2 separate regions of the Homo sapiens genome follow, and region 1 is linked to region 2. The links come from fine-mapping of genetic effects on gene expression. A gene starts in region 2. The other region holds a variant in brackets. All regions are shown on one strand. Distances are from middle to middle.

Evidence for each region. PIP is the estimated chance that this variant, and not a neighbour inherited with it, causes the effect.
Region 1: its variant is the best candidate, but not a certain one, in a credible set for the expression of NCKAP1 in thyroid (GTEx, PIP 0.63).

What each region holds. Positions count from the first base shown.
Region 1 is chr2:183,054,524-183,067,645 of GRCh38, reverse strand. LOC124900540 (small nucleolar RNA SNORA77) reads left to right here and starts at 3,300; the gene lies at 3,300-3,411. The variant A/G (reference allele first, on the strand shown) is at 8,824.
Region 2 is chr2:183,029,233-183,046,694 of GRCh38, reverse strand. NCKAP1 (NCK associated protein 1) reads left to right here and starts at 8,238. Exons shown (of 31, transcript NM_013436.5): 1 at 8,238-8,703. The coding sequence starts at 8,596. RefSeq lists silencers at 7,665-8,316, 8,049-8,638, 8,699-8,818.

The DNA.
Region 1 (13,122 bases), 23 kb before region 2:
TCCCAGCTACCTGGGTGGCTGAGGCAGGAGAATAGCGTGAACCCAGGAGGCAGAGCTTGCAGTGAGCCGAGATTGTGCCCCTGCACTCCAGCCTGGGCGACCGAGCAAGATTCCGTCTCAAAAAACAAACAAAAAAAAATACAATTTTAAAAATTTTTTGTAAAGACAAGATCTTACAGTGTTTCCCCTTGCTAGTCTCTAACTCCTAGCCTCAAGTGATCCTCCTGCCTCAGCCTCCCAAAATGCTGGGATTACAGGCCTGAGTCACCAGGCCCAAACAAAAGCCAATTTTTAATAAAATAAATGAGAACTTATTTTAAAAAATTTATTTGGGGATTAAAGAAAAAGGCTCATCAAAAATGACTTGACAATTTCTAGCTAGGGAAATCTGGACACTAGTGTTATAAGGACTATGAGCTGTGTTTCTCTAGGGTGCTGAGGAGCCCAACTTATCTATTTAGTGCTTGCCACATTGTAAGCCTTCAATAAATATTTCATGGATGGATGAATAAGTGAGTGATAAAGCCAGGATATCTGAGTTGAGTTGAGGTCATTCACATAAAGATGATGGTTGAATGAGAAGATATGAACTTCTCAAAGGAGCCAGTTTCCAGAAAGCCCAGGAAAGGACGATGGTTTAGGGAACAAAATTTGGAGTCTTGAAAACAAATGAAACATGAAAAAAAAACAGATAAAGAGAAGTTATAGAAACCAGTGAAAGCCTGGACCATGTATTCAAAGGTAAATAGAATTTCAAAAAAAAGAAAAAGTTATTCCATGTTGTAGAAAGTTACAGAGAAGTCAGAATACAGAGAATGAAGACAAGTTAAATTGACATGATACAATGAGATCAGCTGATCATTTTTCATAGAACAGCTTCAATAGGGTGGTAGAAGAGCTGCCAAATTAAAGAGCTTGAAAAGATACGATGGCATATAACTAGAGGCAGCTGGAGGTTGTGTCTGGAAACTGCTAGAGTGTCCATGACAGAAAATTCATTTCCAGAGTGTCATTTTCAGATAATGTTGACCTCCCTACCTTCTTCTAGAAATCTATCCTCCTTCTTTAAAATGCTATTTTTAATAATACTTATTTATATAAAACATATATGACTTTTTAATTTAAAATAATGAAAAGCTGGGAAGAAATATGATCAAATTACTTTAAAGAATCAGGAATAATATGGATAATGTGAACGAAGTTAATAAAATCCTAGGATATTAAAAATAATAGGGAACATGTTTTGAAGTTTAAAAGAAGTACTTTTATGTCAACTAAAAGGATATGGTGGGTAATGAAGTTATTGAATGCATTGTCTTATGTACTGGTAGAGACAGCAACAGAATAGTATCCAACAAGCTGAGAAGATGTTTGGATTATACATCAACTAAGGAAAGCATCCCTATTTCTGGATTTGTAATTGATGAATTAGAAAGCTATAGCACTGTCCCTCAAAATTTATTGTAGTGTCAGTATTATTTAGAATAATCAACTGGTCCAATACAATATGACATGTCTCTTTTTTAATCTTGAATCCTTTCTTTTTCAATTGAGTCAGGAGTCCCCTGTAACTTTTTTCTTGGAAATGTTCCTAAAAACCTGTATATTTTCCTGGAGCTATTTATGTAGATATTTTATAAGGATGAATAGTTAAATGCTAGAAGCACTAGAGCTATACATAAAGGTGAAACGCTAACTCTTTTCAAACAATGGTTATTTAAAGACATATTAATTAACCTGGATGAGGCTATGTAGAGTGAAAAGATGTTTTTTCTGATTTCTGAGGGGTCTCTCATTCTACATTAAAAATCTTTTACTTCCTGAGACAGATTTAAAAGATTAAGATTTTAAAACTTTATATGTATTTTTAAAGGCGTGGATCTAATTATTAATACATTGATAAATAATATTTCATTTGAGAATAAGCCATATTAGATGGACAAATTTGGGGGAAAAACTTCACAAGTTATTCAGTACTGAAATTCTAGAAGGCAGTGTGATAAGAGTACTAAAATGAAAGCAAATCAAGGTTATATAATCAGCTTTTTTGCTGACCTACGTTTTGTATTTTGTTGATTTTATCTCTAAAACTACATGATGCCTAAGTTTGAAAATGGCAGCAAATACTGAGAAATCATATGTGACTTTTTTTTTTTTTGAGGCAGAGTCTCACTCTGTCACCCAGGCTGGAGTGCAGTTGTGCATCTCTGCTCACTGCAACCTCCGCCTCCCGAGTTCAAGCGATTCTCCCGTCTCAGTCTCCTGAGCTCCTGAGTAGCTGGGATTACAGGCGCGTGACACCACCCCGGGCTAATTTTTGTATTTTTAGTAGAGACAGGGCAGGGTTTCATCATGTTGGCCATTATGGTCTCGAACTCCCAGCCTCAAGTGATCTGCCCACCTCGGCCTCCCAGAGCTCTGGGATTACAGGTGTGAGCCAACCCACTTCGCCCATACATGGCTATTTTTAATGAAAAGATTGTGAAAGATGATTAGTTTTTTTATAGTTGTACTTTTTGTGTACTCTTTAGCTATTATAGGTTGTTTGTTTACTAATCAGATGTGTTAAAATCACTGTCTTAAAAAAGCAGAAAACATGTATTTTGTTTATTTTATGTATATTTCTTGTGATTCTATAAAACAAGTCAAAGTACATGGCTTACTTTAAAGATGTGTTTAAATACATATGCAGTAATTAGTCTTGAAAAAATTAACTCTGGTGCATGAGAAAAGATTTCTTTTCACACAAGAAAAGAAATAGATGAATGATGGCATGTAGCTTCAAAGCTAAATGTGGCTAAATCATTGGTGTATTTAATCACTTGCATGATGGAGAAAGCATTATTATTATTACTATTATTATTATAGTTATTATTGTTTACACTACTGAATTCAGTACCCTGCGTTGCACCCTATACACAATGAAGCCTTTGAAGTTTCCAAGGAAAATAGAAAAAACTCCAAATTGTGGAGGAAAAAAGATTTCTTATTGACTAGTTCAATTATTCAAAAGAATTGTTATTATGATGTTTTGCATTTGATTTAAAACGATGGGGGAAGGAGGGTTGTAAACCAAACAGAATAAGCCATATGTTGATAAGTATTGAAGCTGGGTGACGGATACCTGGGAGAGGGCTTAATTTTACTATCCTTTCATTTTTTGTTTGAAAATTTGAAAACATCCATTATAAAATGTAAAGAAAAAGGTAAAAATATTAAAGCAAATTAACTTTATCAGAATATATGCCTTTGTGATCTCGGCAAGTGATCACTGAAATGTTAAAACCTTTATTTTCTTTGCAGACTCCCTCAGCATCCAGCGGGTGCTTTTTCGGTCTGCCAGTGAGCATTCCATGGTGCTGTGACCATTTTGACCTCTCTAGGGTGATGCAGCTGCCTGGGGACACAGAGGGTAAAAAATTCCTGAAGAAAAAGAAAAGTCCAAGTGGAAAAAGGAAACAAGGCCAGGCGCAGTGGTTCATGCCTGTAATCCCAGCACTTTGGGAGGCCGAGGCGGGTGGATCATGAGGTCAGGTGATTGAGACCATCCTGGTGGCTAACAGGGTGAAACCCCGTAAAAATACAAAAAATTAGCGGGGCATGGTGGGGAGCACCTGTAGTCCCAGCTACTTGGGAGGCTGAGGCAGGAGAATCATTTGAACCCGGGAAGCGGGGAGGTTGCAGTGAGCCAAGATCGCGCCACTGCACTCCAGCCTGGGAGACAGAGTGAGACTCTGCCTCAAAAAAAAAAAAAAAAAAAAAAAAAAAAAGGGAAACAAAAGAAAGAAGGAAGGAAGGAGGGAAGGAAGGGGAAGGGAAGGAAGGAAGGAAGGAAGGAAGGAAGAAAAAGAAAGAAAGAAAGAAAGAAAGAAAGAAAGAAAGAAAGAAAGAGGGAAAGAAAGAAAGAAAAAAAGAGAAAGTACTTAATTAGCCAGAGAGGGAGAGAGAAACTAGGTAAATACCTATGCCCAATATTGAGTGCTTTGGGAAAAATAACTCAAGAACTTTTTGTAATATTTTCTGAGTTTGTTTTTTACTTTTTTTGTATTTCTACTTTAAGAAGCAGTGATGTCTAAGAAACATGCTCTCATTTATTTTACTTGTTAAGTATGTTGTTACTCTTTAAACTTGATTCAGACTACTTTATGGTGTTTTTAAAAAGTGGTTTTTATATCATCATACAATATTACATTTTAAAATGTCTAAGATGTGCAGGCCCTTCCACCACCAAATGTCAGCACTACATGGAATTTTATTATTATTTTACAAAAAGAGGAACAACATAACTTTATTGTGCATGTGTTCACGAGCTCTTGTGCATCTGTGTGTAATAATATAGCTATTTATGTCTTAGCATGGATGACTCTAACTTGCAAGCTGTAGAGTCACACAACGTGTGCTCATCTCCATGGTAACCATTTCTAAGATAAATGCACTTCTGAACAATGGTCCCAAAATAGCCTATTACCCATTTTTGTAGATTTCCACTGTGGCAGCAAAAAACAATTTTGTAAAACCTTGATCCATTCTTTAACCAACAAAAATAGAGACAACAAACACATATCCAGATCTGCAGAGAAAATATTGTTAAGTGTAATGACATTTTCTACAACAAACTCAGGATTTCGTGGATCTGATTTTTATTTTATGAATTATCTATACTTAATGTCTCTCCTGCAACTTTTTGACTTCCTACATTTAGCTATTTATCTGTTCTGAGATTTCTTTTCTTTTTTTTCTTTTTTTCTGAGACAGGGTCTCACTGTCACCCAGGCTGGAGTGCAGTGGCAAGATCATAGCTCATAGCAACCTTGAATTCCCAGGCTCAAGGGATTCTCCTGCCTCAGCCTCCTAAATAACTGGGACTATAGGTGCACACGACTGTGCCTGGCAAATTTCTTTTTTTTTTTTAATTTTTAGAGATGGGGGTGTTACTATGTTGCCCAGTCTGGTCTCCAACTCCTGGGCTTATGATCCTTTTATCTTGGCCTCCCAAAGCATTGAGATTATAGGTGTGAGCCACCTTGTCAGGCCTGAGATTTCTTATCTGTAAAATGAAGGGGAAGAAATTATCTCCAAGGACTTTTTTAGGTCTAAACTTATGATTTTATGATTTCTCCACTCAAACCATTATGAGAAGGGAAGCAGGGGAAATAAAAACAACTGAAACTTAAGTTAGGCAATCTTTGCCCCTTGTTAGGTTAAATAAAAGAGACTTTTAAAACTATTTACCGGGCCGGGCATGGTGGCTCACGCCTGTAATCCCAGCACTTTGGGAGGCCGAGGTCGGTGGATCGACTGAGGCCAGGAGTTCGAGACCAGCCTGGCCAACATGGTGAAAATCCCCCGTCTCTACTAAAAATACAGAATTAGTTGTGTGTGGTGGCACATGCCTGTAATCCTAGCTACTCAGGAGGCTGAGGCAGGAGAATCGCTTAAACCCGGGAGGCAGACGTGGCAGTGAACCGAGATCGCTCCATTGCACTCCAGCCCGGGTGAAAAGAGTGGGACTTCATCTCAAAAAAAAAAAAAAAAAAAAAAAAAAAAAAAAAAAAAAAAAAAACAAATAAAACTATTTACCATCACAACTGGATTGCATTCCCATAAATTCCAAATAATTTAGTCTTTTTTTCCTATTAAAGTTGACAGCATTTTCTTAAAGTTTAGAATATCTTAATTTTCCCAGTGAGAATAGATTGAAAAGTGTTCTCACAATGGGGAAAACCACTTTCTGTAATTTTAAAGATGCTCATCCTTCACATACCCCTCCACATTGGCTCTGCTGGGGTTTTGATGTCAGACTCCTCTAAGAAAGCAGGAAAGCCTTTGTGAACCTCAAATGAACAGGGGCAGAATAGATGTCAATGAAGAGAATGGTAAAAAGCAGAGCTGATTCTACCCAGCCCTCTTCAGCTCCTGGGAAATGGAAAGCTGACTACTTGGGTTTGGTAGCTCTACCACTCCCCCTAACACTGCAACTCCCAGTGCCATTAAATTATCTATGTTCCAAGATTTAGAGGGATAGGGAGAAGATAGGCCCTTTTTTTAAAAAATTTTATTTTATTATTATTATTATTATTATTATTATTAATTATTTTGAGACGGAGTCTTGCTCTGTCTCCAGGCTGGAGTGCAGTGGCGCTATCTCAGCTCACTGCAATCTCTGCCTCCCAGGTTCAAGTGATTCCCCTGCCTCAGCCTCCTGAGTAGCTGGGACTACAGGTGTGCACCACCACACCCGGCTAATGTGTTGTATTATTAGTAAAGACAGGGTTTCACCATGTTGGCCAGGATGGTCTTGATCTCCTGACCTCATAATCTGCCCACCTCAGCCTCCCAAAGCACTGGGATTACAGGCGTGAGCCACCACGCCCAGCCCCTTTATTTTTATAAGGGTAAACCTTTTTTCAGAGCAGGCTTTGGCAGAATTGTGACACCATCTTTTTCCTTTGAAAGCAATCCTTATTGACCGCCCAACTCTGAGCACATTTCTTTGAAATGGTTTCCTGCCTTTGGAGTGCCACATCTTCTCTCACAGCATTCCTGAATGCTGATAAGTTCTCTCCTTCTGCTCTCTTCAGGGAAGGAGAATGTTATGCCTGTCCGTGTAAGAGACCACCTGAGCAGGCTTAGTGTGAGCAACAAGGCTGTTTATTCACTTGGGTGTAAGTGGGCTGAGTTTGAGAAAGGAATCAGCGAAGGGTGGTGGGATTATCGTTGATTCTTATAGGTTTGGGATAGGCGGTGGAGTCAGGAGCAATTATTTGCGGGCGGGGGATGGATGTTACAAAGTACATTCTCAAGGGCGGTGAGTGTGTATTGTCACAAGCGTGGGGAAGAATGTTACAAAGTACATTCACAAGGTTGGGGAATATCACAAAGTACATTATCACAAGGGCGGGGGAATGTCACGATGGCTCGACCATGGTGCGACCAGCTCAGAGGACCTTACAGAGAACTTCCTCCTTCTCTTATCAGGGCATAGGGAACTTCTTACAGCACATTCTGGCCAGACCAAGACTATCGCTGTTATTCTTTTCCCAACCCCAGACCCCACCAGACCCACCCCTAAACAGACTAACTCCTCTTACACCTTCCTCCTCAATACAAGGCTGCCTACTGACCTAATCCGTGCTAACAAAGGGAAAGGGGGGTCTGGAGCATTTGCATCTACCTTTTGGACGTAAGTATATTTAAAAAGCCACCCTCTGCAGTCAGTGCCACTACATTTTTTGGCTAAAGCAAAGAATGTTGGGGACTTTAAAACAGTAGAGCAGCACCATAGAATGCCTATGAATGGGATGGTTTAGGCAATGGGCTCTTCAGTGCATGGTTTCCATCAAAGTGCCACAGAAGATGTAAAACAGCTCAAGTGCAACTTTATTTTGGTTCCCATAAATTAGTCTGGATTTTGTACCTCAAATGTCCAACCCAATCAGTCATTGTCCACAGGCCAAGTGGGACTTGAGATCACTATGCCTGTCTTGTCCTGATCCCTTGTCAGACCAAGAACGGATATACCTCTCAGAAGGCCCATTTGTCTGAATTACATAATCTTTTTGGTTATGACCCTAGAACACTTTAAAGAGGCAGATATACATTACTAAGACCTGCCTACCTACATTTTCTTTCATTGGCATATAATTCCTACGAAATTTCTTGGTGTAGGTTTACTATATAACTCCTGTAACTCTTTCCTACTATGAGAATTTAGATTGTGTCTGATCTATGTTATTATTAAAAGCATTTCTGTAATCCCTGGGTGAGTATTACTGTTGACAAGACAGGTAGCACAAGTCCTGGTAGCTTCATGCCTGCCAGTTCTTAAAGAAGAGCAAATTACTTAGAAGAAAAACAAAGTGATTCATTCAGTAAGTGGTTGATTTTTCTCTCTTTCCACATGGTGACTCAGCAAAATGAAAGCATTGGGTACATTCTTACTTCTCGAAGAAACCAGGATTTAGGAAGCACTACTCATATAATTATGATATCACATGCTGTTAGCTTAAGTTCAGTTTGATAGACATGTTTTACCCCTTGGTTTGGCTATTGCCAAGAGTGTCACTTTGATATTTGTTCTTACCATCTCTTCTTTTTAAAATGTTGATAAAAATTACCATTAAGAAATGTGAAAATGTCTAGCTTTCAACACCTGTAGTCCCAACTATTTGGGAGACTGAGGAGGGAGGACTGCTTCTGGCTAGGAATTCAAGGCTACAGTGAGCCTGTGAATAGCTGGTGTATTCCAGACTGGGCAACATAGCAAGGCCCTGTCTTTAAAAAAAAAAAAAAAAAAAAAAATTGGCCGGGCGTGGTGGCTCACGCCTGTAATCTCAGCACTTTGGGAGACCGAGGCAGGCAGATCACAAGGTCAGGAGTTCGAGACCAGCCTGACCAACATGGTGAAACCACATCTTTACTAAAAATACAAAAATTAGCTGGGCATGGTGGCGTGCACCTGTAATCCCAGCTGCTCAGGAGGCTGAGGCAGGGAAATCGCTTTAACCCGGGAGGCGGAGGTTGCAGTGAGCCGAGATCTCACCACTGCACTCTAGCCACTGCACTCCAACCAGGGCGACAGAGCAAGACTTCGTATCAAAAAACAAAAAAAAAATTGTGCTGGGAGTGGTGCTGTGCGTTTGTAGTCCCAGCTACTCTGGAAGCTGAGGCACTAGCATCTCTTGAACCTGGCAAGTGGAGGTTGCAGTGAGCTGAGATCACACCACTGCACCCCAATTTGGAGGACAGAGCGAGATTCTGTCTCAAAACAAAAAAAAAAGAAAACAAAAAGAGTTTCTATTATATTATTTTTTATTCTAATGT[A/G]TTATTTTAGCATAAATAAGAGTTCTGGTTTAGATTACGGACAAAACCTTTACATTCAGGTTTGGAAAAATGTCATTAAGTGTCAAAGCTGGGTGATCATTACATGGGAAGTTAATATACTCCTCTATTTACTCTTTTCATGTTTGAAATTCTCTGTAATAAAAATGTTTTTTTTGTTTGTTTGTGTTTTTGACTGCAAGTTCTGCCTCCCGGGTTCACGCCATTCTCCTGCCTCAGCCTCCCGAGTAGCTGGGACTACAGGCACCTGCCACCACGCCCGGCTAATTTTTTGTATTTTTAGTAGAGACGAGATTTCACATAAAACGTTTTTTAAAAGCCCAGATGCAATGGCTCATGCCTGCAATCTCAGCACTTTGGGAGGCCGAGGTGGGCAGCTCACCTGAGGTCAGGAGTTTGAGACCAGCCTGGCCATCTCAAACCCGCCCCTATTAAAAATACAAAAATTAGCCAGGCAGGGTGGTGCAGGTGCCTGTAGTCCCAGCTAGTTGGGAAGCTGCAGCAGGAGAATTGTTCGAAACCAGGAGGTGGAGGTTGCAGTGAGCACAGATCGTGCCACTGCACTCCAGCCTGGGAGACAGAGGCAGCCTCCGTCTCAAAACAAAACAAAACAAATCAAAATTAAAAAAAAAAAAAACCCTTCCCACTAAAGGTAGGAATACCTCTTGAAATGAAAAGGACATAAGAGAAAAAGAAACAATTTCACATGAATTAAGCTAATCTGTCTCCCATGAAGAGAAGGAAAAAAATTCCTTATTTCTAGTACAGTGTTTGATTATATTTTCACATGACCTCATTCCACAAAAAATCTGAGGCAGTTTAACTAACTCTGATAATTGTAGTCAAGTCCATTGCTTTGTGTCAAGCTGATATTTAACATTAAATAATGATGGTGGTGGTGGTGGTGGTGATATTTACCTTATATTAACTTTTTTCTCACAAAAACAAAAGCAGTATGAAACAGATGCCAGTTGTACATCCGTGGAATGGGAGTTTGCCAGCTAGCACTGAAATCAAGAGAAGAGGTATTTTGCCAACGAGAGAATATTGTCAACACTCAAAGACATTAATGTCTAGGTATTTGAACGCTGAACCAATACCAAATATTTTTAGAACCTGTTGCTTCTTTCATTTTTGTGACCCTTTCACATATCTTATGCTTCTTCTTCATGTTAAGTTTTACTTCTTAGGAACAGGGTATGGTATGAATAGGGTGTAGCAGCAACAGATTTCCAAATGTGCTATTTTACACAGAGCAGTCTTGAAAGCTGAAAAGCTGGCTGGGCCTACATTAGCAGCCAGTTTCTGAGACTAAATTTACAATATTTCTGCAATCATTCTGAGGCAGACTAACTATGGCTTATGTAATGTGCAGAAGCCACAGGATTTCTTTAAAACACTGTACATTTCATTAAGGAAACATCCAACCCTTTATTACTTATAACAATAAGAAAAAGGGATATGTAGACAAATGATAACTTGCAGACCATTAAAAGACTTTTTGGTAATCAGCAGTTTCCATTTCTTCTTTTATACAAAACTGTTTAGTTAAGGTGTTCAAATGAAAGCAAAACAAAACAATTTGAGTCTCATGTTTTCAGTTCTCCTTCCCACCCTCTGTTGGAGGTGCCAAAGGTCTTGGCAGCCAGAGGGAGGCAGATAAAGAGAGAACTTGAGTAAATGATCTACAGTGGAATATTTAGTCCTGATAAAATGTTGATAACAGAGGCTACCCTATTACTGTCATGGAAAGATTGCCATAGGGTAATGCATTGAACTCATTAGGAAAGAGGCTCTTTTACAGATCCAGATGACATTCTAAAAAGCTTTAGGTTTTTTTGTTTGTTTGTTTTGAGATGGAGTCTCACTCTGTCTCCCTGGGTGGAGTGCAGTGGCGTGATCTCTGCTCCCTGCAACCTCCACCTCCCAGGTTCAAGCAATCCTCATGTCTCAGCCTCCTGAGTAGCTGGATTACTGGTGCCCGCTACCATGCCCAGCTAATTTTTGTATTTTTAGTAGAGACATGGTTTTACCATGTTGGCCAGGCTGGTCTCAAACTCCTGACCTCGGGTGATCCACCCGCCTCAGCCTCCCAAAGTGCTGGCATTACAGGCATGAGCCACCGCCCCCGGCATAGAAAGTTTTCTTTTTAACATTTATGCCAGGTTAAACCCGGATGCTTAGCACATGATTACCAGGGTATACAATCGCTCCTGTTATGCCATTTTTGATAGACTCATTACAATGCATAGTGGTTTCAAATCTAGGGTCTCTGGAGCTTTATATGGTCTTAACGAAACCATAAACTATTTAAAATTGTACTACAATATTTGTATATATTTTATGGATAGGATGACCAGCTTCAGCAGGGGGATCCATTACTCAAAGCTAATTAGAGGCCAGGTGCAGTGGCTCACGCCTGTAATCCCAGCACTTTGGGAGGCCGAGGCAGGTGGATCACGAGGTCAAGAGATCTCGAGACCATCCTGGCCAACATGGTGAAACCCTGTCTCTACTAAAAATACAAAAAATTAGCTGCGAGTGGTGGCACATGCCTATAGTCCCAGCTACTTGGGAGGCTGAGGCAGGGGAATTGTTTGAACCCGGGAGATGGAGATTGCAGTGAGCTGAGATCGCGCCACTGCCCTCCAGCTTGGTGACAGAGCAAGACTCTGTCAAAAAAAAAAAAAAAAAAAAAAAAAAGCTAATTAGAAACCTTGTAACCAAAAATTAATTTGGCCAACACCAGCATAAAGAAAAAATGATTTCAGCTTTGTTTTTATTTCTTCTTTGACTCCATGGGGAAAATGAATAAAGATGAGTGGCTCACTTCATTCCTTTATTCTGATTCAATTCACAGGCTTTAAGTCTTTCACTGTCTTTTAAAACAGGAGGGTGCTCTAAGCTAATTCTGTTATTTCCAGAATTGCACATCCAAAGTTCTCTTCTGATGTTTGGAAGTCCCATAGTCTGTAATGTAGTAGCAGGTGCATTTTTAGCCAATGTATTATATAACAGAACTACTAGCACTTTTGGCTAATATATTAGATAACATATTTTTATTTAAATCAACTTACAAATGTTTTCTGCTCAAGTAAAACAATTCTATAATTAAAATGTGACATAAGAAAGTATACATACATATGTAATGCTAAAGTTTGCTTTAATGTGTTCCTAATATTTTACATGTAGAATCAACTATATAAATAAATTGGACACTAATTAGGAAATGTGGGTTTCCTCTCTTCACAAACTAAAAGTAAATTGTTCATCCTTTCATTTCAAATATAGCACAAATGAAGACCATTGGGAATATAAGAAATGTAAAAAGTAGTTGTAGAAAATGTGAATAAACTCTGATTCTAAAGGTTTGTGCAAAGAGTAATGAGTTGAAGCAATTAAAAATAATCTATGAAATGGTAAAACTTTAATGTGCAAACAATCCAGGTGGGGCAGTGTATGTTCACAGTTTTAAAGAAAAACATGATTTTATAGTAGCAGCTTAGTTTGTATGACTGTACTTAAGTAACACTGGCTTTTTTTTTTTTTTTTTTTCAGACAGGGTCTCACTTTGTCACCTAGGGTGAAGTGCAGTGGTGCGATCTCAGCTCACTGCAGTCCCTACCTCCCAGGCTGAAGCTATTCTCCCACCTCAGCCTCCCAGGTAGCTGGGACCATGGGCACATGCCACCACGCCCAGCTAATTTTTTCTTTTGTATTTTTAATAGAGACAATCTTTCACCATGTTGCCCAGGATGGTCTCAAACTCCTGAGCTCAGGCAATCTGCCCAACTCGACCTCCCAAAGTGCTGGCATTACAGGTGTGAGCCACTGTACCTGGTCAGAATTTAAATTTTTTAAATTATTGTTATTATTCTTTTGTAGAGAGGGGATCTTGTTATGTTGCCCAAGCTGGTCTCGAACCCCTGGCCTCATGTGATCCTTCTGCCTCTGCCTCACAAAGAGTTGGGATTGCAGGTGTGAGCCACTGCACTTGGCCTGGATTTTAATTTAAGTGGGACTACAAAGTTGAATTTAAACATCAGTGAACAACTGACTTATTGTAAACATTTAGATTTCAGCAATGTCTTACTGGGGAAAATAATCTTATAATGAGTTTATAATACTTTAACATAGTATATATTTTTATAATAAGAAAAAAAATGTCCTTAACATTTGCACATAATCAAGGCTTAGAAGTATAACGATTATGGTGTGTACTTAATGTGAAATGGTGAAAACGTCATTTTTGGAAGTTATTACTTTGAAATAGGAGTTTGT
Region 2 (17,462 bases):
CCTAGGAATAGTCAGGGAAGCAGATAATTTAGTTAAAATGTCTCAGCCTAATAAGGGAACTAGGCAGGTGGGGATAACTAAAAAGGAGTGCATAAAAGAATATTGTCCAAGTTGGCACCAGAGTTGGGGAGTTTTAAAAGGTTTAGAAGCCTGGCCATCAATACCCACAACAGTTATGGAGGCAAGGGAAACAGGCCCTTGAAAAGAAGGTAATGTGGAGTGGCTAGCCTCTGTATTGATTAAGAAGGGGACGGACTTAACCTCCACTGTAAGAGTTACCCAAAGTGTCTATGATGGTCCAGGAAGCTTCTGAGGCAATTGGGCAGCATCAGTCTTCAGACGCTAAGCTGATAAGATCTGGGAAGGAGTCACTCAGAGAGCCTTGGGCCAGAGTTCCAGGGGGTCTGGGAGTGGCTGCCAGGTAAGCTGAACAGTCCAATTTCCAGTGGAGTCCTGCACAGATGGGACGAGGCTTAGGAGGAATCCCAGGCTGTGGGCATTCCTTGGCCCAGTGGCCAGATTTCTGGCACTTGAAGCAAGATCCTGATGGAGAAGGTCCTGTAGGAATGCTTGACTTCTGCAAGTTAGGCATTTTGAAGTTCTTGTGTGCTGGAGATGTGGCTGGGGTTTCTCTCACAGTGGACATAAGGAATGGCAACTCAGAAATACATTGCTACTTGGCTGTTTCTACTCTATTATTGTACACCTTGAAGGCTAGGTTAATTAAGTCGTGTTGTGGCGTTTGAGGGCCGGAATCTAATTTTTGGAACTTTTTTTTTTTTTAATGTCAGGAGCTGACTGGGTGATAAAATGCATATTGAGAATAAGATAGCCTTCTGGGTCTAGGGCTGTAAAGCATCTCAGGGTTGCTGCCAAATGGGCCATGAACTGGGCTGGGTTTTTCATATTTGATGAAAAAGAGCCTAAACGCTAACTGATTTGGGAGAGCATTAACCTTGACTACGCCTTTAGCTCCAGCCACCTCTTTAAGAAGAAATCATTGGGCAGGTGGGGGAGGGCTAGTCGCGGAATGAAACTGTAAGCCGGACTGGGTGTGAGGAAGGGAAGTGAAAAAAGGATTATAGGGTGGGAGAGCAGAGGCTGAGGAAGAATTGGGACCTGGCCCAGCCTGGCAAGGAGCAGCCTGGGGAGGAGGGGAGAGGTCAGATGGGTCCATAAAAAAGGAAGATTGAAAAGACTCAGCAACACTTGGGGTTGGGACTGAGGGGACAGGTGGGAGGGAAAGAAGGAAGATTTGGGATGAGTTGCATTGGGAACAGAGACTAGGGAGGGACTGATGTGTAAAAGAATGCCTGGACATCAGGCATCTCAGACCATTTGCCCATTTTACGACAAGAATTATCTAGATCTTGTAGGATGGAAAAATCAAAAGTACTGTTTTCTGGCTATTTGGAACCATTGTCAAGTTTGTATTGGGGTTAAGTGGCATTGCAGAAGAAAATAAGGTGTTTAGGTTTTAGGTCAGGGGTGAGTTGAAGAGGTTTTAAGTTCTTGAGAACACAGGCTAAGGGAGAAGAAGGAGGAATGGAGGGTGGAAGATTGCCTGTAGTGAAGGAGGCAAGTCCAGAGAAAAGAGAGGGTAAAGACACAGAGAGAAGGGGTGGGGAGTGCTTGCCACCCAGGAAAGTGGAGAAGGGGTGGGGGGTGCTTGCCCCCCAGGAAAGTGGAGAGAAAAGAGAGGGTAGAGGCACGGAGAGAAGGGGTGGGGGGTGCTTGCCCCCCAAAAAGTGGTGCTTGCCACTAAGGGCGAAGGATCATGGTGGGCATCCTCATGGTGATCAGACACCTCTGAAACGTGGGTGAATAATCAAGCAGGCGTCCCCACAGTGATTAAACACCAAGGGAAGACTGTCTTCCCGAGTCTATGACCGGCACCGGAGTTTTGGGTTGACAGATAAAACGTGTCTTCTCCGTCTCTGCCAGAAAAGGAAAGGAACTGAAATTAAGAGAAGGGAGAGATTGAAGGATGGTGCCAAGATAGAAAGGAGAAAGAGGTTGAGGGATAGTGAGAGAGGTTGGAGAAGAGAGTAAAGAGTGGTGGCTTACCTGATTTAAAATTGGTGAGATGTTCCTTGGGCTGGTTGGTCTGAGGACCAGAGGTCATAGGTGGATCTTTCTCACGGAGCAAAGAGCAGGAGGACAGGGGATTGATCTCCCAAGGGAAGTCCCCTGATCCGAGTCATAGCACCAAATTTCATGCACATCCATGTGAAGAGACCACCAAACAGGCTTTGTGTGAGCCATAAAGCTTTTTAATCACCTAGGTGCAGGCGGGCTGAATCCGAAAAGAGAGTCAGTGAAGGGAAATAGGGGTGGGGCCGTTTTATAGGATTTGGGTAGGTAGCAGAAAATTACAGTCAAAGGGGATTTTCTCTGGATGGCAGGGGTGGGCGTCACAAGGTGCTCAGTGGGTGAGCTTTTGAGCCAGGATGAGCCAGGAGAAGGAATTTCACAAGGTAATGTCATCAGTTAAGGCAGGAATCTGCCATTTTCTTTTTTTTTTTTTTTTTTTTTGAGATGGAGTTTCGCTCTTGTTGCCCAGGCTGGAGTGCAATGGCACGATCTGGGCTCACTGCAACCTCCACCTCCTGGGTTCTAGCGATTCTCCTGCCTCAGCCTCCCGAGTAGCTGGTATTACAGGCATGCACCACCACGCCCAGCTAATTTTTGTATTTTTAGTAGAGACAGGGTTTCACCATGCTGGTCAGGCTGGTCTCAAACTCCCAACCTTAGATGATCCACCCGCCTCGGCCTCCCAAAGCGCTGGGATTACAGGTGTGAGCCACCACGCCCGGCCGAATCTGCCATTTTCACTTCTTTTGTGATTCTTCACTTGCTTCAGGCCATCTGGATGAATACGTGCAGGCTTGGGCTCACAGGCCTAACACCTCATAAGTCTTCCTTTTTCCTTTCCTTTCCTTTCTTTCTTTCTTTTTCTTTCTTTCTTTCTTTCTCTTTCTTTCTTTTCTTTCGTTTTTTTCTTTCTTTTCTTTCTCTTTCTTTCTTTTTCTTTCTTTCTTTGTTTCTTTCTTTCTATTACACACTATTTTCCTTTTTAAAAAAATACTCTCCAAAAAGTATCTCAATTTATTCCCATGGCTACAAATAATACCCAAATTCTGATAACTTCAAATTTGTATGCTAGGCCTCCCCTTGGAGGTCCAGTTCAATAGATTCAATATATTTTCAAATTTTTGAAAGAATATTCACCTCTGGAGTGAATATTCATCTCTGGAGTTTTTACATTTGATGTAAATGTAAAAATGTAAAAATGTAAATAGATTATTTTTGTTCAGCTGAAAGTTGGTATCATCAAAATGCTAACCCTGTATTCTAACTCATTTTGTTCTACCATTGATATTGCCTATTTTCCATGTAGCATTTTAACGTTAAAAAATTATAAACCTAAAATGATCAACCAATATTTGTATTCACTGATATATATTCCATCATATACTATTCATGCATAAGTCTAGCCTAATAAATATCTAAAACAAAAAAACAAAAAGCAAAAACAACAAAAAAGGAAAGCTAAATCTATAGTTTTATAGAGCAGGTGCAAATAAACATGTGTGAGTTATATTACCAAAGATTAGGCATACTATAAGATGAATCTAATTGGATGTGAGTGGTCAAGATCAAGGCTGTAATTAATTCTTTATTTTATTTCATTTTTTTAACTTTTCAGATCAGCTGTATTTCTGGCATCTCTTCTACTGATTACTGGAGATACCTCATGTGTCTTTATTCTGGTCTCAGTTACTCTTCTGCTCTACTGAGTTGCAATCTCTGGCTAAGTCTTAACTCCTTCCTTCATTTACTATGGATACTGTTGCCCTGTCTTTTCCTCACTGTTGCCCTGTCTTTTCCTCATTCTCTTTCTTAATAATTTTTTGGGGAATAAATGTTATACCTTGTGGTCTTTGCCAAGCAGAAGAACAGGACATGAATTACTGTTAAACCACAGGGAAATCTATTGTCCTTTTCCACTGTTGTTCACCCAGGGTTGGTTTCTCTGCATTATGGTCTCACCAAATGCAATTTTTTAGAATGGCACTTCCTTGAAAAGCTCTATTAATTTGTTATTCACTTATGTCTGACTCTTCCCACAGCTTGGGCCCTTTTTCTTTCTGCATTCAATTTTGTCAGAAGGTGGTGGCTTCCCAAAGGAAGGGTTGAAGGACAGACAAAATTACTATGTCTACTTCTCAATTCCCAGGCTATTTCAAAGAGAAATTTGTTCATACATTTCTAGTCATACTTAGTAATACCTGGTTAGAAGTTTAATGGGAGGAAAAACATTATATTTGTCTTTAAGATCAAGTGGAACACTGAAGTTTGATGGGAGGAAAAACATTATATTTGTCTTTAAGATCAAGTGGAACACTGCCTTTGATGGCAGACCTCCTAATCAAAGGGCTTTATCCTAAGAACCTATAGAGATACCCTTAATCAATTTTTCTCACTTCTTGCCTTATATAGAGAAGCAACACTGGGTTGGGTAAACTAAGTGATTTTAAAAAAAGAACGCATAAACATTCTTTATGATTAGCAAAAGATATTACAGAAATAATTCTCATGCTAGTTTCTGGAGAAAGCAAAGCTAAAGAAAGCCATCTAAAAAAGCTGATGTATCGGTCAGGAAAAAATATGGCAGACTCTTAACTGTGAATTGAAGAAAGTGAAGGAACTGTTTATAAAGGTTTGAGCAGGGTTATAGGACTCTAGAGGAAACTATAGAATCATGTTCACTGGATGCATGAAAAATGTAGTGCCATCCAACTGTCTTGTCACAGTAGTGCACCAACTTTGGAGTCAGACCGATAAGGGATCCAATATCAGCTTTACCATTTTCTATGGGTGTGATCTTTGGCAATTAAAAAAAAAAACTGTCTGCATTTCAGTTTTCTCATCTGTAAAATTAAAGATGATAATATCTCTAAAGGTTTTTGAAAGAAGTAAATGAGAAAATGTAGCTCAAATTGTAACAACATCTGACACAGTGCAAAAACCATAACTATTAAATCTAGTTATCCTCCCTTATTTTATTCCTATTAGAGATATTATAAAGTTGGCCACAGAAACTTATTATTGAGGATCACGTTTGAGGATTATTGAGAATCACGTTTGGCTGTAAGTAAATAAAAAAAAAAACAAATAAAAAAGCTAGAAGTTTATTTCTCTTTCGTACAAAACCAGGTCTAGACAGGCCAAGTTTGACATGGCTGTTGTGTTCTAAAAAGCCCACATACACCTTCCATTTTTATGTTTTGTCATCCTTACTGAGTGGCTGTTGTCTTCCTGGTTCAAGATAGTGGTCATTGCATCCTTGTTGGGTGTGGCAGAATGAAGGAAGTGAGGAAGAACTGGCAAATGGAGAGCAGCAGCAGTCCCTTTAGGAAGGTTCTTGACAGCTTATATCTTACTGGTCAGAACATAAGCTGCAAGGGAGGCTGGATGATGGATGTACTTTTCCTTTTTTTTTTTTTTTTTTTTTTTTGAGACAGAGTCTCACTCTGTCACCCAGGCTGGAGTGCAGTGGTGCAATCACGGGGCTCACTGCAACCTCCTCCTCCCGGGTTCAAGTGATTGTCCTGCTTCAGCCTCCCAAGTAGCTGGGATTACAGGCACGCATCACCATGCCCGGCTAATTTCTGTATTTTTAGTAGAGATGGGTTTCACCATGTTGACCAGGCTGGTCTCAAACTCCTGACCTCAAGTGAGCCATCCACCTTGGCTTCCCAAAGTGCTGGGATTACAGGAGTGAGCCAGCGTGCCTGGCCTCAATTTCTCTCTTTCTTTCTTTCATCTCTCCTTCCTTCCTTTCCTTCCTCTCTCCCTCCCTTCCTTCTTTCTTTCCTTTCTCCCCTCCCTTCCCCTCCTCCCTCTCCTCCTCCTTCCCTCCCTCCCTCCTTTGCTTGCTTGCTTCCTTCCTTCCTTCCTTCCTCTCTCTCTCTTTCTTTCTTTCTTTTTAAGACAGGGTCTTGCTCTGTCACTCAGACTGGAGTACAGGGGTGTGATCACAGCTCACTGCAGCCTCTGCCTTCCGGGCTCAAGTGATCCTCCCACCTCAACCTCCAGAGTAGTTGGGACCACAGGCACGCCACCACCCCCAGCTAATTTTTAAATTTTTGTAGATATGGGGGTCTCCCTATGTTGCCAAGGCTTGTCTTGAACTTCAGGACTCAAACAATCCTCTTGCCTTGGCCTCCCAAAGTGTGGGGGTTACAGGTGTGATGGAGCTTGAGCCTAGCAGTTGAAGACCAGCCTGGACAACATAGGGAGACCCTGTCTCTACAAAAAAGTTAAAAAGTTTAAGAAAAATTCCCGTACACTTGTTCTTTTTAATGCAAAATGTAGAGAAAGACAAAAATTGTAATTCATCTACATCTAATCTCTTTTACGCAAATATATACATTTCATTACAGTCTAGGGCCAGTATGTCTATGAATTAGTGACAATAAATATTGAATAATGAGACTACTATCTACAGCGTTCTCCTATTGGGTACTTCCTGAGTTATAAGCAGCTACTAGTATTCAAGTTTATATGGCAACATGATAGTTTTTCTTGGGGAGTAAGAGTTGTGTTCAAATTTATAATACAGTGCCATTTTCTTGTTCTCCCTATACAGCAGTTTTTAAAAACTAGAAAATGAGACAATCTTTTATTGGTAGCACTCTGTAATTCTGCGTCTAGACTTAGTTATTTGTAGTCTCCCTAAAGGAGCACATATTTCCCCAATGTTCAACATTTTTAAATTTTCTTATCTGGCTACCCCAAACCCCTCCTCGCAGCCTCCCCTTCTCAGGTCTGCCCTTACTATTCCAGGCCCCACAACCTTGCCTCCTCTAAATTAAAATGTTAACTATCAGGCTGAGAAGTAACCAGATAAATTAAATTCCTTGACCAGTTAATGACTAGTAATAGCTCGACAGATGATCTCTCTGAAGTGTTTGTATTCTTAAGACTCTCTAGGTACAAAGCATTCATTCAAGGTACTGCAGCTTTGTATATAGAATTTCAGGCACACTGGCAGGTATGATTATGACTTCTTTTGGTGGGAACAGGACTCTTTTAAATGCCCCTTAGATTAAATCCATTCAGTCCACTCCTTCTTTCTTGTTGGAATATTAAAATGAAGATTTCTTTACGAATAGTAGATATAGTAGCTTTAAAAAATATTTTAAAGCTATTCATTACAATTTCCTTTTCTTAAAGAGTTTTGATAAATCCAGTGATGGCTTATTACTCTTAGAATGTCTTATTGAATGTGGCGGGACATTTTGTTACTGACTTAAAATTAATGAATATAATATAAAAAATTAACATATCGAGAAAAGGCAAAGCCAAAAATATTAGAGGCCTGAGTCCTCTTGGCTGAAGTTTCTCACCTCAATTACGTAAGTCCTCAGTTAGTTCACTTTTGGAATCATGTCTAATACATTTGACAAGGGAGTAGCCTTGGAGTGTCGCTAAGAAGAAATTGATCAGGAAAAATGAGATGGCAAAGAAGAATGTTTCCAAGAAGAAGTGGGATTTAGGGTGGAGGCTGTAAAAAAATGGGAGCGGTTCCTTTAGGCATTGAACAAACATTTATTTTTTGCCTTCCACATGCCAGGACCTACTGCGTCTCCTCCGGATGGGTGCTCCTCGCCGACAAAGTCTAGATTGTGATTATCTCAAGGACTTGAGTTACCCTCACTTCCGACCTCCTCTCTCACAAACTGGTTCCAGGCGGGGAGACTGAGGATGGGCTGGGGAGGCTGGCAGAGGCGATCCCCACCTCGCGGAGCACAACATCTGCTGTGTTCTGCGGCGAGCGCCTGTCAAGCAGTGGGAGGAAAAAGCGCTTGGAGCCACCAGCCCACTCTTAAGCGAAACTCGCCTGGAAAACACCCCGCCTCCCAGCAGAGTTTCTGCCGGTTTCTTTAGAAGGGTGGTGCGGAAAAGCAACTTTTGGGAACTTGAAGGAGTGGGGTGTGGGGCGAAGTGGAAAGAGCACACAACGCGACCCCACTCAGTCCCCGCTTGGGACTCCCATCCCGGCATCAGGCGTAGTGGGCGGTCCGGGCCAGGGCCAGGGCCAGAGCGGCGGCGGCGAGGCCATGCCGAGGGCCCGTCGGCCGCAGTTCCCCGTCCGGCCTCGCGGGGGCGCCGGCGCTGCCGATCAGGTGACCGAGGGCCCGTCCGGGGCTGCGGGAAGCGGCCTCGTTCTCAGCCGCCGGAGACGCCGCCGCCGCCGCCGCCGCCGCCACACCTAGTGGAGCAGCCGGGGAAGGCGGCTCGTTGGGGGCTGGGGCGGAGAGCGCCGGGGGTGGGGGCGGAAGGGCGGCGGGCGGAAGGCAGGAGGCTGCCGGGGCGCGGGCTGCTGCGGGAGAAGGGGCTCCGAGGAGTCCGCCGCGGCTCGCTCTGTCGCCGGCGCGGGATTGGGGCGCGAGGGCCATGGGCGCGCTCTCCTAAGGCGGAGGTCGCGGGCGGGAGGGGAGGAGGCCCGAGAGAGGCTGCTGCGAAGGCCGCGGGCCCGTGACTGGGCGCGAGGCGGCCGGCGGCGGCGGCGGCACCAGCACCACCATGTCGCGCTCAGTGCTGCAGCCCAGTCAGCAGAAGCTGGCGGAGAAGCTCACCATCCTCAACGACCGGGGCGTCGGCATGCTCACCCGCCTCTACAACATCAAGAAGGTGCGCACGGGCCGGGGAGGCCGCGGCGGAGGCGGGCGGGCCCGGGAGGGATGAAGGGCAAGGGAGGCCGTGGGGTGGGGGCGGCAGGAGGCGCCGGGTGTAGAAATCTCGGCGTCGCCGCCCGAGGCCCGGCCCGGGGTCGCCTGGATGCGCCGCGGCCTAATGCGGAGTCCCGGGCGCCTCTCCCTGTGGTTCGCCGGCCGGCCGAAGGCAGAGAAGCCATTTCCCGGCTCCCGGCGGCGGGATCGGGCGCTGGGCCTCGCACGGGGTGGGGGCGCCGCTGGGAGCCGGGAGCTGTCCCCTCCTCGGCGCCCCCGCCCCCATGATGGGGCCCATAGGAAAGGGAGGGTGGTGGGTGGGCGAAATTCTAGGTGGGTAGGAAAACTTGAGTGTTCCATATTCTTACGGAGATGGCAGCAGTGAACAGGGATTACACCCCACATCCCCATTTTTTGGTGTGGGAATGTGGGTAGAGAAGGGCTGATTGGATGAATCCCGTATCCCCTCCACTTTGCCACTTTATTTTAGATTGCTAAATAAAAAGCCATTGAGAGTGTGTTGACGATTTGGGATTATTTCATTTTGAAGGTGGAGAGGAGGGGGAAGTGAGGGTGGAACCAATTTTCTGAAATACTTCTAGGCTGTGAGTCACTAGAACTGGAATAACAACCTTCTACTCTTTCCCCTGTACTCCTCCTCATGTTAGATTTTCCAATACCATTTCTTAAAGTTCGGTGTCTGTACAAAATAAAAACCGTAAAAATGTTGCAATTGCTGCTGATTTATAGCATAGTCTGATAATTTGAGCAACTATAGCTAATAGGCCCATTTAAAGGCTTTTACATGTCCTCAGTACAGTAAGGAGTGGAAGACCACTGGAAGTTTAGAAAAGTCCATGTAAAGATAGAACAAATAATTACATTCATTATCGTAGGACAAAACAACAAAATCTCTCCCCTTAAGGCAAGGTTGGTAAGTTTTAAACAATTTGATAAAGAGAAAAAGAGATATTTGGAAAATTTAGATCCATCGAGTTTCCAATGTGTCTTTGATGTCATACCTTCATAACTATTTGTTGGCTTTTTAATATATCGTGAATGTTACCGTTTAGTTTAATCATAGCAATAGATTGTAGGTTGAGAGGGCTTCTGAAGAAAGGTTTTTTTTTTTTTCTTTGGAAATTCATTTCCAAGCGTTTGAGTGTAAAATTGATTTATTTTTTACAATTTGATGTAGACACTAATTCTAAAGAGTGTCCTGGTTTAATGATGATAAATTTTGGATAAGGACAAAGTCTGGTTGCTCACCTAATTGCAAGGCTTTATTACTCTAAACCCAGTGCTATCTGGAGAGTAACTGCAACATGCTTACTCAGTTTGTTACCTTTTATGTGGCAGGAGCTCAGTGTCATGACAAAGAAGCCCCTCTGCATTTACCAAGGAGCCTAGGTTATAAATTTATATAGGTTAGGAATAATTCAGTTTTAAATAGTATTACTTAGAGGTTGCATTGACCTGAACTGTTCGGGGAGATTGTGCTGCTTAAAAAACTTGGAAATTGATTCCTATATGAATTTTGTCCAAAAATGAACAAGTCAAATATTATAAAAGTTACTAGACCTGTGGTATTGTGGTTTAAAGGAAATGGTTATGATGGTTTCTAAAAGAGGAAGTGAGAGTAACATCAAAAGTGATTTGGGTATTTGGGCAAAATACCTTTTCTAAGCATTTATTAAACATTTTTGTAGGATAAATGCAATCAAACTTTAATATCCCACCTTCATAAATAAGATTAAATGAAATTCTGGGCATTTGAACTCTAATAATTCCAGTTCATTGCCTTTTCTCAAAAGCACTGTTTTTTTCACTTCCTGTTTTGGGAAGCTTCAGCCTCTTGTATTATTGAACTTGTGAAAGTTAAAATGCATTGAATGTGATCATTATTATATCCATGTCAAATATTTTGATTTATTGAAACGTCATATTTTAGCACTTGCCTTATATTTTTAGTTTCTTAAGAAATACATTGCTTACCTTGCTTGAGTGTGAATTTTCTCTGGGCAGGGACAGTGTAATTTTTGAAATACTAGAGTATTTAGGGCCTTATCTGATACTCGAGGCCTTCAGTTAGGCCAGGTTGAAATGAATGAATTACTTCCCTCCTCTCTCTCAAAACCTGTGTGCTCTAGTTTTAATAATAATACCCTTGGGTTTGCTCCCTTTGTGTAATTTTGCATGTAAATGAATCAGATAAGATTTTGGATCTTTCAGCCTATAGAATTGTCTGTGAGTCTGGCATATCTTCCCAGCTGGCTAGGAATTGAAACATTTGTTCAAATATCTTGCCAAAGAAGTGAGTAAGATCTGTTCACCATGTGTTTATTAGGTTCATGCTGTCTGCATTCTTACTGCATTATAAACCACATACTCTTTTCAATCTCAACCTCTTCTAGTCTTAAAAAAAAAACCTTCCACCTCATAATACATGTTTGCCAATCAATTATCACATTTTCATTAATGCATGTGCATTAGATTGTCTACCAGATCTAATTACTCTGTTTCAATTGGAAGTATACAGTGGAAATGATATTTTAGTGAACATATACAATGAAAAATAGTTAAGTAAAATAACTTATTATTGTCAGTAATATGCTTTGGCGCTTATTAGGGAAGTTGGAGCATGATTACTGAAGAATGTTTTTTTTTTTTAATTTCATCAGTCAAAAATTTTGAGATCTTAATATTTACAATTTATGGGAATTTTAGGGAACTTGTAGTTTGACGGAGGATGTAGGAACACATAAAAGCGGATTTTAGGGAAAAGACTTGAAGGTTGTTGGTAGCTTTACATTTAAATTTATTTGTTGCTTAATTCCTTTTTTTTTGTTTTTAAATATATGGTTTCCCTTTTGCAGACCTAATAATGTGACTCACTCATGTAGAGATTTGTAACATTTTTAAAGGTTCCAGCATGGCAACTTGTGTGGTGGTGGGATTAAGAGCACTGGGCCAGAAGTTAAGAGACTTGCATTCCAATCTTCATTCTGTCACTGAGAGTTCTCTAACATTGGTTAGTAATTTGACTTTCTTGAGCTTCACTTTTCCTCATCTGTAAAATGGGGAAAATTAACTGTAAAAGGAACACTAAAGTCTATTCCAGCTCTATCTTTATGATTTTATGGTGAAGTAGTAGAGTAGAAATTATGTTTCATTTTAAACAATAACTGAACTCAGTTTAGTTTTCTGTAATGTAGGGAGCATAATGCCTGCCCTACATACTTCACAGAATTGCTTCTGAAGGTAGAGGATGGTAATATGTGAAAATAGTATTTAGGAATCTGAGCATCTCTTTTGGGCAACATTGTTTTTCTGAAATTGTATAACTGTTCAACAAAACTGCCAAATACCCAAAGAAAACATTTTGCTCAGTTAAATTTTTGTGTGTGTGGTTTACTCTCTTCTTTTTTTCCTTCTCCTTTCTTTTCCTCCACCATTACCAACATGAGATTAATCTCTGTATTAAAAAGATCTTAGTTAATACTTGCGTCTTTTCCTCCTGTTAAATTTCTGCCTGTACTGTAAAGGTCAGAGAATGAGAAAAAAAAAAAAACCCATACAACTATTACAAACTTTTTAAAGTGGAGTATTGTGGTGGTTTAAATGCAGTTTTACTTCTTTAAAAACATTAGAGGAATATTTTTCTTTTTTTCCCTATCCTTTTCTCATTATTTTGGATAAATTTATTTTCTAAGGAAAAGTTTAACAGGACTAGCATTGTAAAATTGAAAGTCTTTAGCCAGTATCTGCTTATTTAGTGGGGGAAGAAAAGATGTTTGTGAAGGGAGCAGTGCAGGGTAAAGGGAGGGGAACTGGTTTTAGTCTTCCCTTTCAGTATTGTATTTGTTTCCACTTAGGGTGTTATTTTCTCTTTTGGTCAATCAGATGCAGAAGCGTGTTCCAGAGATGCTTAGGAAAATAATTATTTTTAATTTTTAAGTAGCAATGATAAATAATCCATCTTTTGTTTCCTTTATGGAATTGTTAAGTAACTTTAAAATTTTTTAATGATTACCAGAGGAATATATGTTTATTGTCAAAAACTCAAACATAACATAAATGAGTGACTTCAAAAATTCACTGTCTGCCCATCTTTATAACTTTATAAGCTACTGAATTGTTAGTTTGTAAGTAGGGTTGTATATGTGCCAGTTTGAAATGATTCTCTTGTTTTAAGTAGAAGAACCCATACTGGAAAATGCTTTGTTATTGCATAGTTGACTATTTTAGATAGTAATAAAATTGCATCTTTAAAACTGTTTTATAAGCCATCATATGAGCTATTCTTTCAGTTACTCTCAAATATTGAGGTTTTCCCTTTTAATTTATTCATTTACTCTTCGTTTATTGAATGTGTTCCCTGGCATGAGGGAAATAGAGGTAAATTAAGATGAAGTCTCTAGTGCCAAGAAATTAGTGTCTTAGTGGGGAGAGAGATGTATAGATATTTAACTAAAATGCAGTGTGTAAGTAGGATTGTCGGAGTCTTGAGAAGGGAATTAAGGATTATAATCTGGGAGAGATGGTAAAGAGGAGAGTCACATTTGTACTTGGTTTTGAAGTATGAATAGAAACTTCAGGCAGCCAGTGACAGAAACTAACTAGTTACTATTTCAGATTGCAGAGTTTTTATTCAGTAGGATATACAGAGGGTCCCCAACTTGTGATGGTTTGACTTAACAATTTGTTGACTTCTTGTTGGCACAAAAGCTATGGCATGCAGTAGGAAGTGGTATGATACTTTCTTGTGATCTGATACTCTGCAGTGTACTGTATTACCAGATAATTTACTCAACTGTAGTCTAATGTAAGTGTTTAAGGTAGGCTAGGCTAAACTATGATGTTAGGTAGGTTAGGTGTGTTAAATGCATTTCTTCTCTTTTTTTGGAGACAGGGTCTAGCTCTGTCATACAAGCTGGAGTACAATGGCACGATCTCAGCTCACTGCAGCCTCTGCCTCCTGGCTCAGGCGATCCTCCCACCTCAGCCTTCTGAGTAGCTGGGACTATAGGCACATGCCACCATGCCAGGCTAATTTTTGTATTTTTTTTGATAGAGTTGGGGTTTCACCGTGTTGCCCAGGCTGGTCTCTGTCTCCTGGGGTCGAGCAATCCACTCGCTTCAGCCTGCCAAAGTACTGGGATTACAGGTGTAAGCTACCGCACCTGGCTGATTTATGATATTTTCAATTAAAGATAGGTTTATTGGAATGTAACCCTATTGTTAAGTTGAGGAGCATCTGTATAAAGATAACAAAATACAGTCATTCTGCATAATGATATTTCACATAACACTGAAATGATGGACTGCCTATACACAGTAGTCCCATAAGATAACACTGTATTCTTACTGTTTTTTTTTATGTTTAGATACATTTAGATACAAAAATACATACCATTATGTTGCAATTGCCTGCAGTATTCTCATTGTACGGGTTTGTAGCATGAAAGCAGTAGGCTATATCCCATGTACCCTGGGTGTATAGTAGGCTATACCATCTAGGTTTATGTAAGTACGCTCTGATGTTCACACAATGATGAAATCATCTGATGACATTAAGCAATGCATGACTGTGTTAGAGTATAAAATAGTAATGCTCTTCTTGCAGGCATATAACCTCTAAACTTCACTTATTTTCTAAACATTTTCCGTACTTGCAGAATATTCTGTGAGTTGAGAGAGCTAGATTCTAGATAATGCTCTGATACTTTTTTTTTAGTTTGAACAAGTTATTTAACATTTCTGGGCTGTAGGTTACTTACAAAGTGAGGAGATCAGTGGTTCCTAGCCAGGGATACATAATAGAATCCTCTTGGAAGGTTTTTCCAAATTCCATACATCTGGATCCTGACCCAAACTTAACTTGAACAGAAAAAAATCCCTGAAATTGTTCCAATGTTAACTACTGAAATAACTGAAATGTAAATTCTTAAATACCTGTAATTTCTTTTCCTGCTAATTATTAACTGTGGTGATTTAATTTAGTTGTCTGGGTTATAACTAAATTTCTGGAAGGCTGCACATTGGCTGTCTACTAGCAAAACCAGCTCCATGGTACTTATTTGCTCTCAGCTTCTGTTATGCTTCAAGCTGTATTTTTTGGCTTTCTAAGCCTTGCTAGTCTTATTGATTCTAACTCTTGTAATCTTAAATAGATATTCCAGTTATCTCACGTTTTTGGAATACGCTTTTATTAACCTCATAGGTTAAGAGGAGAATTAAATGAGTGAATCCATAGGAAGTATTGGTACAGTGCCTTGTAGCAAGCGTAAGAGCTGAGGAAATGGTGGCTGTTGTTACTAGTTCTATTTCTGGGGCTTGGAACATAGTGGACACTTAATAAATGTTCATTCCCCCCCACCCCCAGATTAAATTAAGCTCAAGACTACCTTTTAGGAAACATTCCTCACTATTCTATTTTACTGCCTGATACAGTTTGACATCTACTTACTGCTAAGACAGAATAATTATTTGTATTTCAGAAGTATGTGTTCCACAGTAGTCCTTTAAATAACAATTTCTTTTTAACCGCAAAGGTATGACAATATATATACTTTAAAAAACTGCAAAAACACCTTTGCTTCATAAACTGAGATGATCCTGTATATTGGAAGCTGAAAACTGTTTAAAGGCAACAGTGACATATATATCTTCTTGTAAATGGAATGGTAATTAATAACTCATTTGAATCACTAAATTTTTTTCTTTTTTTTGAATCACTAATTTTGAAGTGTATAATGGGTTGAAGTTTTTCAAGTTCATGACTTTCTCAGAACTTGTGTCTAAAGGACAATAACTGTGATTTCTATATTTTTAGATCTCAATTATTGGCTCCAATTAAGAGGTAGTTATTGATAAAATTACATTAATTTGAAAGCATTTCCAATAATTTCAGTATACTTTGTTATCAAGCCTCTTAATCCAAGTTACTAGCAGTAGATTGCTCTCTTTTCTTTTTACCTACCTAAGAGGGAAAGTGCTAACTTAAAGCAGATCGGTTGGCCAAAATATACATCATAACACAGGAGGAAAAAAATAATCGGAAAGCTAACTACTGATGAATTTGAGTCTTATTTTGCTCTTGATATAAAGTTTTCCAGTACTTATGGACAATTTTCATACTGTAATATTTTCATTATTTAAAAAATTGGAACATAAAATAATCATAGGTATATATTACTTTTACATTCCATAATTTCAGGTAACGTCTATTCTTCCTCTAGGTATTAATTTCAATTTGTTGAAAACTCAGGGAAGAATCTTTGTCCCTTTATTCCTTCAATTTTGCAAAACGTGTGGTGTTTCTTGGTTATTAAGTCAAATTCCTCTTTCGAGTCTAAATTGGCCACATTTTGTATTTTTCTCCTCATCCTTGACATTATTCAGATGGGGCTGGTTTCTGTGCCCTCACGAATAGCATTCTCACTCTGACTCCTGAGATCTTGTTCATATTTTTTCAGTTAATTCATTGTACTAGAAAATCATTTTGTTCTTCCCTATTTTGGCATTTTTCCAATTATTGTACTAGAAAATAATTGTTCTTCCATATTTTAGCAAAGGAATGTGTTTTATTCCTGAGTTAGAATAGAAATTAAAAAATAAAACTGAAGCTAGGCACAGTAGTAGTGCGTGCTTGTAATCCCAGGTACTTAGGAGGCTGAGGCAGAAGGATCTCTTGAGACCAGGAGTTCAAGTCCAGCCTGGGCAATATAGCAAGATGCTGTCTCAAAAAAATAAAATGGATTGAACTGATCAGATTTTTACCGTGATAGCAACTGCTTCCTGAGGTTTTAAGCAGCGGAGGTTTTGAATAAGTGGAGCATGTTTTTAAACATTATTTTTGGGAGGGGACATATATTTTTAGATAGTGTTTTGGAATCAGGTATGAATTTCTCTGTAGGTCCTGTCAGTAGTTGTGAAATCTTGATCAAGTTACTTAATTTTTCAGAAGCTCCTTTCCTTTCTGTTGAGTGATAATTTAGATAATTTCTAAAGCATAGGTGTTTTGCACACAATAATTGCACAGTAAATGTTCTTTTTACTTCCAACATCTTTTGTATCTTGATTATTTTGTTGTTTTTTTTCCTTCTCTCTCTTTTTTTTTTTTTTTTTTTCGAGTCAGGGTCTCACTCTTGCCTAGGCTGGAGTTTGCAGTGGTTGTGAACAGGGCTCACTGTAGACTCAACCTCCCTGGCTCAAGCAGTCCTTCCATCTTAGCCTCCCAGGTAGCTGGGACCACAGATATTTACCACCACGTTTGGCTAATTTTTAAACATTTTGTAGAGACAGGGTCTCCCTCTTGCCCAAGGTGGTCTCAAACTTGTGGGCTCCAGCAATTCTCCTGCCTTGGCCTCCGCAAGTGCTGGGATTGCAGGTGTGAGCTACTGAGCAGTCTTTTTTTTTTGGTGTCTTGATTGTTGCTTAATCTCTTGTGAATAGATAGAGGAATTTTAAAAATCTGTATTTTTTTTTTTTGGCATCATGGTAAGTTCTTGGAAAAATAGTAACATTAACCATGTAAAGTTAAGCTGTGGTATGTAATCCTATGCTGTAATAGCTTGAGGAAAGGCCTCAGTATGGGGGTTTGTGGTAGAGTGGCAGAAAGATGTGTTTTAAAGTCATACTTTAAAATGGCATAGGGTCTAGGCTTGATGTTTCTAATCAAAGATGTTTCTTTTGTGGCCCGGATAATATATTGTGTAG